Linked DNA regions of Homo sapiens. The protein of the gene in region 1 interacts with the protein of each later gene in a biochemical or structural test. Each region holds a gene or a part of one and is shown on either strand. Other genes may lie near its edges.

Region 1 (7,019 bases):
CTCCTGTACCAACACCAAGGCGGATGGGGAGGTTCCCGGGACCTCCTCAGACCTTTTCTCGGGCTCAGAGTCATTGTCTGAGAAGTACGCAGAGTCTCGGTATGAACCCTGGGAGCCAGCTGTGAACGTCTCAGGGGTCACTTCTGTGCCTCTGTGACCATCGCCGGCATCTGAGATGACAATGACCGGGTTGGGAGGCAGACCGCTGTGGCCGCCATCGCCCGTGGTGGCTGGTTCTGAGTCTGCGGTGCCCTCGGGAGCGGGATGCAAGGTCCACTCGGGAGACTCCAAGTTCTCTGTTTCGTAGCCACTGTCTGCCGGCTTATCGGGGGGCACTAGTTTCTGGGGAGTGTGAGATCCTAAAGAGTCCAGTAGCGCTTCGTGGACATCCACTGACTCCAGAGAGTCCGGGGTTTCCAGGGACGGCTCAGAGGCTGGGAAGGGTGCTGACAAGCTGTCCTCCAGGAGGCTGTCCTGACTGGTTGAGTCCGAGGAGAGGGCAGACACCAAGCCTGCTTCTTTTGCTGCGTCTTTAGAATTGAGCTGATTTAAAGTCTCCACAGCCTCTAAGTTTTTCTCTAGCCGGCGATGACTGTGATGGTCTTCCGAAAATGGTTTATTGTGCAATTCCTGTCCCAGTTCCGGGAGACTACTCCCTACACTCACCCTGCTGGCAAGGATGTCATCAGCAAGAACAGAGTCACTTTCGGTGAGTCGCAGGGTCTCCTCACTCTCGCCAGGAGAGTCCTGGGACCTGTTATCCAGGCTGTGGGTTCTGGCATCAGTTGAGAGAATTTCAACCGGGACAGTCACAGCGTCTGGACTGATGTCCTGGTGGAGACAGTCCTCCGGGACAATAACATCTAAACACGTGGGCTGGGTTTCTCCCTGTGTTGGGAGTGAGTCTGGGGGTACCCGACGGGGCGTTTCTTCTGTTTCGAAGGAGGTAGGAGGTACCTGCACTTCCGGGGAAGACTGCAATGAGGTGCTCAAAGTGTCACCTGTGAGCATGACATCTGTATCGTCACCCTTTGTGCTTACGTTTTCCTGCAACAAAGACAAGCCTGGCTTATTTTCAGCAAACTGAAGCTCAGTATCTAAAGAGTTTCTACATGACGTTTCTAACATAGCTTCAGTAAAACCAGCATTCTTAAGTTCTGTCTGAAGATCATTTATGTGTTCTTTGCTGGACAATGAGCCTTTTAGTAAGTTTTTCTCTTGAAGAAATAAAAAGTTTTCTGACAATTCTTGAACATTCAATGGATCAAAATTATCTTGGTGCATAAGATTATCTGATAGGCAGAGAGGCTCACTGTCAAAAATCTTACGGGGCTTTTCTTTCTCAAAGTGGCCTGTTATGACTGACTCTTTGGGGTTATCCAAACTGGAACTTAAAGTGGCAGGTTTAAAGTCGGCTTGAACTCCGTTTAATTCCATTAAGTCGAATATTTTTTGGTGACTGGGCAAATCTTCCGATTTGTCCACATCATTAAATATATTGTTGAAAGGGCTCTCGGGGCCACTGGTCACGTGTAAGTCCCCTGGTAAGCTAGAGTCTTTGGGGTCTGTACTGCTTTGGAAGAAGTCCTCATCTGTACTGGACTCCTCAAGTTCAACGCTCCTGAGCGCCGTGAGCTGGGACAGTTCAGGGCCAGTCCTTTCTGGATTATCCATGTCGGTTGTGAGCAGCGCTGGTGGGTAATCAAGCTCCAAGTTACTACCACTTTTTTCTTCTAACTGGATATAATAGTCGCTTCCAACAGAAAGGTTGTGGGCATCAAAAACAGGAACCACTCCAGGGACCCTCAGGGGGACATCCTGGCCGCTGTCATCTTGCTTTCCGGGCCCAGGATCTGAAAGCGAACTCTCAAAAACTTCAACCGGATAGAAGATGCTCGTGTAGGACAAGCCTTCGTCCAGGTGGCCCCGGCTGCGCTCGTCAAAGTGGTCGTGCTTAGCGGCCTCCCAGACATACTCGAAGCTCAGGCCCTGGCTGGTTTCGGTCACGGTGAGGACTTCCTCCATTTCACGACCCAGCCGGTCCCTGGCAAAGTGGTCGAGAATTGGGAATGCAGCATTGTTGGAGGAGTCTCTGCTGTTTGTGTTCGGCTTCAGAGCGTTCCACTGCTGTTCAAAGTCGACCTCTGAGTCCCGCTGGCTCTGCAGCCGCAGGTAAGTCAGCAGCCTGTGCACATCTTCAGCCGCGGGTCTCTTTTCTGGTGACAGCCAACAGAACTGTAAGACTTCATACCTGAGCAGCACACGACAAGCAATCAGTGGAACCATCACGAATTTTTTTTTTTTTTTTGGTTCGAGACGGAGTCTTGCTCTGTCACCCAGTCTGGAGTGCAGTGGCATGATCCCGGCTCACTGCAACCTCTGCCTCCTGGGTTCAAGCAATTCTCTTGCCTCAGCCTCCCGAGCAGCTGGGATTACAGGCGCCCGCTGCCGCGCCCAGCTAATTTTTGTATTTTTAGTACAGACGGGGTTTCACCATGTTGGCCAGGCTGGTCTTGAACTCCTCACCTCGTGATCTGCCCACCTCAGCCTCCCAAAGTGCTGGGATTACAGGGATGAGCCATTGTGCCTGGCCGAATCAGTTAAAAATATCAAAAGAGGCCAGGCACCCTGGCTCACACTTGTAATCCTGGGGCAATGGGAGGCTGAAGTGGGAGGATCACTTGAGCCAGGAGTTCAAGAACAGCCTGGGCAACATACTGAGACCCTGTCTCTACATTTTTTTTTAAATAAAAATAAATAAATAAACAATATGAAAAGAATTTACAAGGACCCTAAAGCCAACTCAACACCCGAAACATTTCTACACCTTCATCACTGCCAACCACATTAAGTAGTTCAGCTCATGGTGACATCATGGTGAAAGAGGAAATGAAGAAACATAATATTTGGCCCACGAATTTTTTTGTGTTTTGGGGACACCTCACAGTGAAGACGAAACAGAACAGGCGGAATGTGAGGCTACCAACCATCTATCAGAGTAGGGCTGCTCCAGCTGGGGCTTCGGGAGTTTTGTGTCTCTCTCTCTAATGACTTGGTTGAGGACATCTAAGTTGGAAAGGTTTGAATACGGCTGTGCGGCATTGTCAAAAAGCTCCCAAAGTGTCACACCCAGAGACCTGTTGGAAAAAGAAAATGGCTGTTTCTCTCTCCCTTTAGATGTCAAATTTTTAACACTCATACTTGTTACATAGCCAGTAATTTTAAGGACAAGGTGTGTATTGAAAAGATTATTAATAGGATCTTTGTTGTTGTTGTTGTTGTTTTAAGACAGAGTCTCACTGTCGCCCAGGCTGGAGTGCAATGGTGTGATCTCCACTCACTGCAACCTCTGCCTCCCGGGTTCAAGTGATTCTCCTGCCTCAGCCTCCCAAGTAACTGGGATTACAGGCACAAGCCATCATGCCCTGCCAATTTTTATAATTTTAGTAGAGATAGGGTTTCACCACGTTGGCCAGGCTGCTCTCAAAGTCCTGACCTCAGGTGATCCACCTGCCTTGGCCTTCCAAAGTGCTGAGATTACAGGCGTGAGCCACCACAACCAGCCAAGATTGTTCTTTAATCTGAAACCAATAATCAACAGCACAATAGCAAAAAAAGAGGCATTTCTGTTAAAATGAGGAAGACCATGCCTCCTATTTGCTACTGAATACCACCCTAGAAGTTTTGGCCAATGAAAAAAGTACAAAACAGAGATAATAGGTGTAATTATGTGGATGAGATGACTATCAACTTTTAAGTACTCAATAAATTATTGGAAAGACCATCAGAATGTTCTAAAAATTTGGCAGAATTGCTGGAAACAAGATAAATACCCTGAATTCTGATTTTTTTTTTTTGGTAGAAAAATACACCTATTAACAACATTAGTAAACACCAGAAACCATCTAAAAGGAATCTTTACATGGGCAAGACGATATCCTCTCTGTGAGACCCACAAGTTTGGTTTGAGTTACTCCTCAGTATCGTGGGTTTTGCTGCTATTCTGAAGGGATCCCCCATCACGCTGGCAGCTGTGTGCCAGGAGAGACCCTGAGGGCTGCCTCACCACAGCAGGAACGCCCTTCTCAGTCCCAGCCCAATCCTCTCTCACACTGCGGTGCTCTGTCCCCATGGAAACAGCCTCTGCTGGCTTCCTGGGTCAGAGGAGCTGCCTCTCATTTCCTCCACGAGGTCTCTGCATTTCCTCCCCACCACGCACTGCCTCCATCCCGCATTTGTGTCTATTTACTGCAATGTTCCCGAACGTGACTCTCATCTGTGTCCTCTGGGAAGCCGTGAACACACACACTGCTAGGTCAGATCCACCCCTAAAGGATGCTTAGTTGGTAGATCCAGGTGTGGCCTAGAAAACTCACGTTTTAAAAAGTTCCCCAGTGATTCTGATGTCCAGCTAACCCTCCACGACACGCCCCAAACAACAAAGAAGCAACTACATTTTGACAAAAATCACTAAAGGAGAGCACCAGAGCCCATCAAAGGAGTAACAGGTACTCAGGAGATTCAGGACAGCCACAGCGAGAGCGGAAGGAAACGCCTGGCCTCCACCACCCCATCCCTGGCAGGCGCAGCCAGGAACCAGGAGCAACTTTCTCTTCCAGGTAAGGGCAAGTAAGAGGATCTCACTGTGGACCCCTACATCCTCACACTGCTCACCGTGGACACTACAGTCCTCACACTGGGGTCGCCTGGGGTCCTCACAGGCAGTAAGCCCAGCTGAAGAATTCAATAAATGAAATAAAAAGAAATACAGAACTTCAACAACAGACTCAAGCAGAAGAACCTCTCAACTTGAAGAAAGGTTGTTTGAAATCACCCAGTCAGAGGGAAAAAGACAGAAGAATGAAAAGGAGTGAAGGGAGGCTTCAGGGCTTATGGGAGACTACAGTGCAAACAAATACACACATTATGGGAGTTACAGAAATAAAAGAGCTAGGAGAAGGCAGAGAAAGGCTATTTAAGGAAAGAACAGCTTAAAAACTTCCCAAGTCTTGGGAGAGATACAGACATCCAGATCCAGGAAGCTCAAAGGTCCTTAAAATACAATCAACCCCAAAAGGTCATTTCAGAGGCACATTATAGTCAAATTGTCAAAAGCCAAAGACAAAGATAAAAATTCTAAAAACAGCCAGAGAAAAGCATTAAGTCACATAGGAGGGAAGCAGAGAATAGGATGGTATACTCAAAGTACTGAAATTGGCAGCCAAGAACACTATGCCCTGCAAAGATATCCTTCGGAAATGAAGGAGGGTTGGGCGCGATGGCTCATGACTATAATCCCAGCACTCTAGGAGACTAAGGCATGAGGATTGCTTGGGGCCAGGAGTTCAAGACCAGCCTGGGCAACACAGCATGACCTCGTCTCTACTAAAAAAATATATATAATAATAACTTTTTTTAAAAAATGGAGAAATAAAGTCTTTCCCAGATAAGCAAAAACTGAAGGAATTCATCATTATGAGACATGCCTTAAGAGAAATGGTCCAGGAGTCCTGTATCTGGAAGCTAAAGGAGGATAACCATCAACATGAAAAAACACAGAAGTATCAGACTCACGATACACTAGGTAGAGCAGATACACAAGGGGGAAAGAAAAAGGAAGAAAACCTCATCACTCGTGGAAGATAAAAAGGTTGATCTCATAGAAGTAGAGAGTAGAAGAGTGATTACTTGAGGCAGGGAAGGGGAGGGAGAGGAGGAATAGTGAGAAGCTGACTAACGAATACAAAATTTCGGCTGGGAAGGAGGAATAAGATCTAGTGTTCTAAAGCACTGAAGGGTGACTATAATTAACAACAAATTTTTGTATATTTTCAAACAGCTCTAAGAGCGGCTTTTGAATGTTCCCAAAAACAAAAAGAAAAAATGATACATGTCTGGAGTGAAGGGGATACTAGTTACCCTGATTTGATCATCACACACTGTATATAGGTATCAAAATATTACACTGGGCCAGGTGCGGTGGCTCACGCCTGTAATCCCAGTACTTTGGGAGGACGAGGCAGGCGGATCACTTGAGTTCAGGAGTTCGAGACCAGCCATGGCAAAACTCCATCTCTACTAAAAGTACAAAAATGGTGTGGTAGTACATATTGGTAATCCCAATTACTCGGGAGGCTGAGGCACAAGAATTACTTGAACCAGGGAGGTGGACACTGCAGTGAGCCGTGAGCCGAGACTACACCACTGTACTCCAGCCTGGGCGACAGTGAGACTCTATCTCAAAACAACAACAACAACAACAACAACAAAAACATATATATATATCACTGTACCCCATAAATATGTCCAATTATATGCATCAATGAAAAAAATAATAAAAGCAAAAAAATTGTTTTAAAGAAATCAATCCAAAAGAAAGCAAGGAGAGAAAAAAAAAAGCAGGACAACAGCACATAAAACATAGCTATAAATTAAGAAGGCTGTGACAGAAATTGTTAGTCAAAGTTTTAGGTGCATCTTTTTAGCTCCCATTAAACTGACTCCTATAAATCATAGTATAAACATGATAGTCCACACCCCTTTCAGTTTCTTCTTTCACTTCAATAAATACATATTAAATATCTATTACATGTCAGGCCCTGTGGGAGGCACAGAATATGAAACAGACTTGGTTCCTGCTTTTCTAAAGGAAAATGGGTAGCAGGGGCAGTATTCAAAACGTTAACTCCATCACCACAATTGTGATAATTACTATTTGTGTCTTTTAAACTGTCTTTTTCACACCATCAGATACTCTTTTGTTCCTACATCTTATACAACTACTTTCCTTTAAGGAAGTACTCAAAGAGGAAGAAGTTAGGACTTTGCCAAAGAAATGACTAATAAAACGGTAAGCCAATACGTACCAGATATTACTATACTTAGTCTGATCTGCAGTTAGCAGTCTGTCTTGAAAGCTGGTTACTAATTCTGGAGCAGTCCATCGCAGAGGGAAAACTTTTTTATCATCTGTTTCAATATAATCCTCCTGTTTTGTTAGAAAGCACACAGAATTTTGA
Region 2 (7,811 bases), on another chromosome or scaffold:
TTTAGGGTCCTTTCCTGCATTTTTGTTGGTGAATCTGGTGTGTAAAATGGCTCCCAAGTGTAAAGGGCTATTTGGTATTGGCTGAATTTGTGGAGGGGGCCAACTGTATATTTATTGTTTCTGTTCAAAGAGGATCTCATAAAGTTTGCATGACTTGTGACAAATAATAATGTATATTTGGTATGGTTTGAACGTTTGTCCTCTCTGAAACTCACGTTGAAACTTGATCTCCAATGTGGCAGTGTGGAGAGGCACAGCTTTTAAAAGGTGACTGGGTCATGAGGGCTCTGCTCTGATGAATGGATTAATCTATTCACGGATTAATGGGTTATCAAGTGAGTGGTTCTGGTGGCTTTATAAGAAGAGGAAGAGAGACCTGAGCTGGCACGCTCAGCTTCCTTGCCATGTGATGCCCTGCACCACCTTGGAACTCCACAGAGTCCCCACCAGCAAAAACGCTCTCACCAGATGCACCCTTAAGACCCTGGACTTCCAAGCCTCCAGAACCGTAAGAAATAAATTCAGTTTCTTATAAATTATCATTTCAGACATTCTGTTATGACCAACAGAAAACAGACTAAGACTATATTGTATTACTAGTAGAATTAGTTTATTTGCTTTACAGTCACATAACAAGGATCATTAAAAAACCCATCCTTTTTACCACTTGGAACCAAACATCATGAACTTCAATGAATTAGGGTTTGATAGTTCTCTTTAAAGACAGGACTGTAACTCTAACTCGACAGGTCAGTCCCTTTTAAGTGAATCTACCCTGCCACAGATACTACAGAAGAGGCAGCCCTATGCAGTTGAGTCAGTCTAGTATAGTGGCTTTTGAGGCAGAAAGACCTGAATGTAAATCCCAACCAATTACAGAAAGAAAGAGGCCAATCCATAGATTGGGCCCACGGGAAATTACAGCAGATCCAAGTTAAGAATAAACAGAAACTAAAGAAGCAGAGATAAAGAGTAACTCACTTGGTAAATGGACCAAAAGAAACTCACACTGGAGAACAGCTAAATAACATAAATGCCAGTAAGGACCACATTCCTGCTGCTGAAAACCCTGAAGCTACATTTGAGCCTTCTGTAGTTACGTTACTTATCTTTTAATTCCTTTTCTTTTCTTTCCTTTTTTTTTTTTTTTTTTTTTTTAAGAGATGAGGTCTCATTATGTTGCCCAGGCTGGTCTCAAACTCCTGGGATCAAGCAATCCTCCCACCTTGGCCTCTCCAAGTGCTGAGATTACAGGCGTGAGCCACCACGCCTGGATGTTATTTATCTTTTAACTAACTTGGTTCTCCTGCTTCAGTTATGTTCTGGTGAAATTCTGTCTTCTTAATTCCATGACCTACACATCACACTCCCCCAGCACTCCATTTAACGTGGCTTAGCCCAAAGAAGTTGGAAAATTGTGTGTGAGAGAATGTAAGATTCAAGCATCCATGAGCGTGGGAGTTGCTAGACAAAAACTAAGGTCCTTTCCAGCCCCAAAAGGCCACGATTCTAACCTATGAACCTACTCAATATTTCCTTCAAGGTAACACAAATCCCTAAAATTTACCACCACCAAGCAGTAGTTCCTTTTATGGTCCTAAATAAGATCCTTTATCCAGGAATGCCCTAGGTTCCTATATTCTGAGATTTCACAAACATCCTCATTTTAGCTTCTGACTACCAATTTCAATGGTAACTTTTCTTAAGCCTTATTTTCAGAAAGTAGAGTCCTTCTATTTTTAGTATCTTGCAACGCCCAAGCCCCCGTGCACTTCTAACCCACTACAGATACTGTACTGCAACATTTTCTCCGTGCATAAACGCCTACCTTTCTTTTTTTAAAGGCTAGTATATTGTTCCATTATACAAACGTACCGTAATTAATATTTCACCAGCTCTTACTAATGGACTTCCGGTCGTTTCCAATTATATTATAAATATTACATACAATGCTCAGGTCAACAACTTTTTACATGTGTATCTTTAGCGTATGCAAGAGCAACTAAATTACCACTGGGTCATTTCAAGTTGCTCCTCTTTGAACTGTTTTGAGCTTAGATCTATCTCTGAACAGGAACAAAAACTAGAAAGCACCCAAAACTCTGGTTGCAGATGCAGAAATACAGTGTGGCACAATGCTAATGGGGGAAATGGTCTCTTCTTTGACGGATCGCCTATTAGCTTGAGACTAGATCTTAAAGGGTTCCCAAAGCAAGAAAATACACTGTAATTATCGAAGAATTTTAGATACCTCAGAGATGAGGTTAAGAAATAGTAAAAGCTTAACAGTCGAAGATCTGAAGCTTCAATTTCATTCTTTGATGTTCCCGATTACAGAAAGTTCAAAGATGATGTTTAAAAATATTATATATGCCCAAATGCTTAAAAAAAAAAAAGGAAGCATGATAAACGTCATCGCCCAGCCTTCTTAAAGATCGCTCCCACCCGCGGCTAGCCGGGCAGGAGAAGAGACTCGAGCGGCACCCGAGCCGCATCCACGCCGCCCGCCCGCCCCTGGGGTCTGGGTAGGTAACGGGCCCGGCGGGAAGGAGGGGCTCCCAGGCCGTCCCTCCCAGCGCTCACCTCAGCTCCTCGTCGACATTCCCGCGGGGCTGTTCGGCCGACGCCACCATAGAGGAAGTCGTAGAGGTCTTGTTCTTCAAGATCCCCTTGATGGGCCGGTGCGAGGCCGTCGAGGCCGCCATTGCCGGGCGCTCCGGCTGTCGGCTCAGGGTCGCTGCTTGGCGTGGGGTCCGCGAAGAGAAGGGTCGGCACAGCAGAGACTCGCAGGCAGCCGCAGATCCCGCTCAGGGCTAAAGCGGCCGCAACTGCTGCCTCGGAAACGGCTACCGCAGCGGTTGTCACGACACAACGACCCCGACGCCAGAGCCAACGCCGAACGGGTGGCGGCTACTCGCGCACCCTTAGCCACTGGCACTTGACCCGCGGCTCGCGGAGAGACGCCGGCCTAGAGCTCCAGCGCAGGAGCGACGCGACGCCGAAGCCAAGCGGACCCGCCCTCTCGCGATATCTAGGGAGGAGGCGGGGAGAGGGCGGGGCGAGAACAAAGCCGACCTCCTCGCCCCGCCCCCTCCGTCCCGCCCGGGCTGCTCGCCCCGCCCCCGCGCGGCGCTGGGAGGCGGGAGCTGTCTCTGAGAACCTGCGGGAGAGCGCCCGGGCTTGCTGCTTCCCGGACCCGCGCGTCTCTCGAGCACCCTCGTCCCACCACCTTGTGAGGCCGTAGTGTTATTTTTATTTTTTAGATCAGCAGACTGAGACTCGAGGTGACGTCACTCCGCAGAGAGGTTAGCTGACTTGAAGAAAACGGGTATCTCCTCTTTCCATTTCGCCCGTGTAAACAGCCGAACTGCCTATTATAAAAGCATGGACTGCCAGCATTGGAGTGGTCCTTAGAGGCCTATTATGAAATCATAGAATGTCTGCATTGGAATCGCCTCACCTCCTTTTACCGCTGGAGAAGCCGACGGACAGACGGGCAGCGACCCCCGCCGTCGCACAACCCGTCTAGGCAGAGAGCGCAGGAGACGGGAGGGCGGCAGGGACACATCTCCCAGCCAAGGACCTCCTGGGCCCGCAGAGGCCGCGACAGGTTCCCCCCACAGAGGGAACCAACTCTGCCGCAGGTTGATGTGGACTTCAAGCCTGCAGAACGGAGAGCCCATTTCCATTGCTTAAAGCCACCTCGTGTGTGGTATTTGTTATGGTCCCTGTACACTCCCTTCCCTCCCTCTCCCAAGTCCAGTCCGCAGCTCGCTCATCACCAGGCTCTTTTCCATGACTCTTTCTTGATCAGGCCTTTTTATCGTCCTCACCACAGGTTAGAGCACAGCAGACTGAGCCACCCAGAACTGGCCCCTCCGGTGGACCAGCCCCTGCGGATTCACAGACCACTGGTCCTGGAAGGGACCTTGTCAAGCAGGCCCATAAGGTGGCTATTCAGCCTGTTTCTCCAACAACCCCAGGGGCTAGAAGCCCGCCACACCCCCGTGTAACTCATTTTGTTTTTGGACAGCTCTGACTCTGGGAGTTCTTAGATTGAGCTGACACCTCGCTCCCAGCAATGTCTGTCCACTGCTGTGGGGGGTGAGAGGAAGCGTTTTCCCCTATCTAGCCCCTATAGCAGCAGTTTCACTCCCATGGCTCATCTCTGGACCACAGTCTCATCTTCTTTAACACAGGCTCTGTGCCTTTTGAGGATGACCCTGTTCTGTGTCCTTAGGACTCTGCCCCTCAGGGATGACTGTAGGGTTCTGAAAACGATTGTTTTTATCGTCTGGCCCCGAGCCCCTAGCTCCTAGATGAGTTCCTGGCACAGAACAGGGCCTCAGTATGGGAATGGATGTGGATGGAGATAATGGAGGGGAAGTGAGCTGGAAGGGGAGAAGGGAAACAGGGTTGCTGGTCACAGAGTGGAATGTGTTCCCCAGGGATTTGCCTCAGCCAGGGGCCTGCACAGTCACTGTTGGCACTGTCCCCACCTTTGTTCCCAGTCAAATATCCACTGGTGCCGTCTCTCCCTCCCAGGCCAGGACTGCTCAGTGGATCTAACATTACACCCTGACAGCCCTGTCCAGCCCATGGAGCAGAGAGAGAGGGTTCTCAGCGAGGGGAAGCAGGATGGCCACCTCCCTTCCCTTCCTGAGTTCTTTCCACCCCAGTGTTCAACACCTGTGTTGCGTCTCCTGCCCTGTCAGCAGGAGTCTAGGTCAGTGATGGCAATCCTGTTTTCAAGGGAATACACAAACTTCCCTGTATGTTCCAAATTATTGGGCAGATTTGCTTTGTTCCTGCTTGGGCTGGGAAGCATCACTGAGTTCAGCATCCCTGAACTCAACTGTGACTGGGCCCTTGATTAAGCAACAGCTTGCTTTCAGACCCTCTAATGAAAGGGACTACGATCGTATGACATAAAGTGTTTTATTAGTTAATTAACTAACAAACATTGGAACAGGAGGTGATGAAGAGTTCTCTGAAGAACCTTGGAAACATATTTCCCTCATCAAGAGTTAAACTTTTGTCTCCTGTACTGGTTCTTCCACTCCCAAACCCACAACAAATGAATGCAGATGAAGATGACTTTGGTAGCACTTAAAAAAAAATAGTTTGTAAAATTGTGAGGGCCAGTACTGCTTTTTTTTTTTTTTTTTTTGAGACAAAGTCTTGCTCTGTCGCCCAGGCTGGAATGCAATGGCACAATCTCCACTCACTGCAACCTCTGCCTCCTGGGTTCAAGTGATTCTCCTGCCTCAGCCTCCCGAGTAGCTGGGACTACAGGTGCCTGCCACCACACCCAGCTAATTTTTGTATTTTTAGTAGAGATGGGGTTTCATCATGTTGGCCAGGCTTGTCTCAAACTTCTGACCTCAGGTGATCTGCCCGCCTCAGCCTCCCAAAGTGCTGGGATTATAGGCATGAGCCACCACACATGGCCTGCTTTTCCTTATCTTTCAGAATAGTTGAACTACTTTATTCCTCAGTGTGGCCCAAATAAGATTTTCAAATGCCTCTAAACAGAGCTCTCCTTCTGTGCCTCTGCTGAGGTTTGCTCCTGTAGGAAGTTATCTGGACCAAACAGCCCGAGCACTGAATTTAGCTGTATTGCTGTTACATTTCCTGTGTGTTGAGGGTTTGGCTGCCAGGAGGTGAATTGTAGATAGAATCTTTCATTCTGGTTTCAGTTTCTGGAAGTAGCTATTGAGCTCAAGGCAAATCATATATTTAAAGATATATACATGATTTAAGGATAATCTGGCATTTATCTCTGCTCTCTTTTTGAAGACTTCATTATCATGGTTGCCTGACCCAACACAACATATTTGGAGGAGGAGAGGGGACACTTTTATTGTACCCCATCACGTGGCTGAGTCATTTGGCTCTCCATTCACTGGAACAGACGACTATGGACACCACCATTGGGTTTCCCACCAAGGACAGAGTTCCAAAGCAACAGTGGCTTCCATGGTTGGCTCACCCAGCCTGCCTGAGTCATCAGCTAGGTCCACAGAGTAGAGAAGTGGGTAGTGCCCCCGCCTAACATCTGGAAAAATTCCCAAAAGTTGTGACTTCATGACCACTGAGTCAGCAGCAACTCTTTTCTTGCCAAGAATAGCACATTGTTCTTTTCCTTTTCAGGTAATCCCTCCCCGGAAAGAGAAGATCACAGATTTTGTCATATTAAATACATTGTAGAAATTCATGGTAGCAGGGGCAAGATCATTTAAACAAAACAGAAAGTTTCAGAGAGAGAAAAAGCCAAGGACAAAGATTAATCATTTTTCTGCTTAAAAAAAATGGCTTTGATTTGCAACCATGGAATGCTCCACTGTTTCTCTTCTCTTCAAAGACATCTACTGAAAGGATTCCTTAACCTTACCAAGTGGCCAAAATACTTTTCTGAGAAGAGTCACAGAGCATAGGCCCCCCTAGGGTACACAGAGATTTCATTAGTCCCTAGATGTTTCCTGATCCTTTTAAAAACTGGTTAAATTCAGAGACTCTAGGCAATTACTTCTTTCAGAACCTGTGAGGCAAAAACGAAAGAAGAAGGCAGGACACGCAGTGTAACAAACCTTGGAATGGTAAGTAGGAAATATGAGTTAGTTTTTTGGCTAAGCTATGAATTTACCTTGTGCCTGCCAGAAATCACTCAGTCTTTTGTGACTGTAAATTTTCTGTAAGTGTTAATTGGTTTGGTTTATTATTGCAAGAAGCAAGGGAGCAATGTTGTGTATTATAATTTCATTGTGTCAATTTTGCCAAATTATCTTGCATTTTGTTATTCTATGAACTCATAATGGGATAAGGAGTATAGGCTTTGATTCAGAACATATGTGATGTTGCTATAAATGCTTCATGGAAAACCCTAAATATATTTTGAAGCCTACATAGTCAAAAGTCACCATTGGAAGACTTTTTTACTTTACTATTGTATTTATGCTCGTTAGCACTCATTCTTGTTTGAAACGTCTCAAATGCGTAATTTTATTATTTTATTTGTTGTCTCCAGATTGGTCTGAGGACTCCGCTTTCTTCACTGCCCATTCATCTTCATACTGTTCTCATATTTTTTTTTAAATTGGGATATGCAATGATCCTTAGTTTATAAATTCAACTCCACTTTGCCACACACAGTGTTACGCTTGGGGAAACAATTAGAACTTGCCCTTCTTGGCCAGGCGCGGTGGCTCCCGCCTGTGATCCCAGCACTTTGGGAGGCCAAGGTGGGCAGATCACGAGGTCAAGAGATGGAGACCATCCTGGCCAACATGGTGAAACCCCGTCTCTACTAAAAATACAAAAATTAGCTGGGCATGGTGGCGCGCGCCTGTAGTCCCAGCTATTTGGGAGGCTGAGGCAGGAGAATCGCTTGAACCCGGGAGGCAGTGGTTGCAGTGAGATTGCGCCGCTGCACTCCAGCCTGGTGACAGAGCAAGACTCCATCTCAAAAAAAAAAAAAAAAAAAAAGAACTTGCCCCTCTTTTTTTTTTTTTGCTCAAGGAACTCAGTCTGCCGTGGTTGCTCATTGTCTAGGATGAAGTCCAAATCCCTTGGGCCTTCACAATCCAGCCCTGTCTGTTCTTCTAGTCTCCTTCTCTTTTTACATCCACTTGCTTTCTGCTATGTTCTTCACACTAGTCACACTGCCCTTCTCAGGGTGTCAGAGCAACCTATATTCTGTCCCTTTTTCATGCCTTTACTAATCTATGTGAAATACCATCCCCTATTCTTGCTTTTAAATTACCCCAGTTCAAAGGTCATCTCCTTCTCCGACTCCACGCAGGCCGAGTTAG

The links.
Region 2: of the proteins of LMTK2 (region 1) and PPP1R2, one has a biochemical effect on the other in vitro, tested with the Homo sapiens proteins (one study listed by IntAct).

What each region holds. Positions count from the first base shown.
Region 1 is NC_000007.14:98,186,846-98,193,864, reverse strand, and holds part of LMTK2 (serine/threonine-protein kinase LMTK2 precursor), read right to left. Parts: intron 6,989-7,019; coding exon 6,867-6,988; intron 3,138-6,866; coding exon 2,988-3,137; intron 2,252-2,987; coding exon 1-2,251. UniProt on the Homo sapiens protein: Phosphorylates PPP1C, phosphorylase b and CFTR.
Region 2 is NC_000003.12:195,540,321-195,548,131, forward strand, and holds the start of PPP1R2 (protein phosphatase inhibitor 2), read right to left. Parts: upstream 3,006-7,811; 5' UTR 2,706-3,005; coding exon 2,584-2,705; intron 1-2,583. UniProt on the Homo sapiens protein: Inhibitor of protein-phosphatase 1.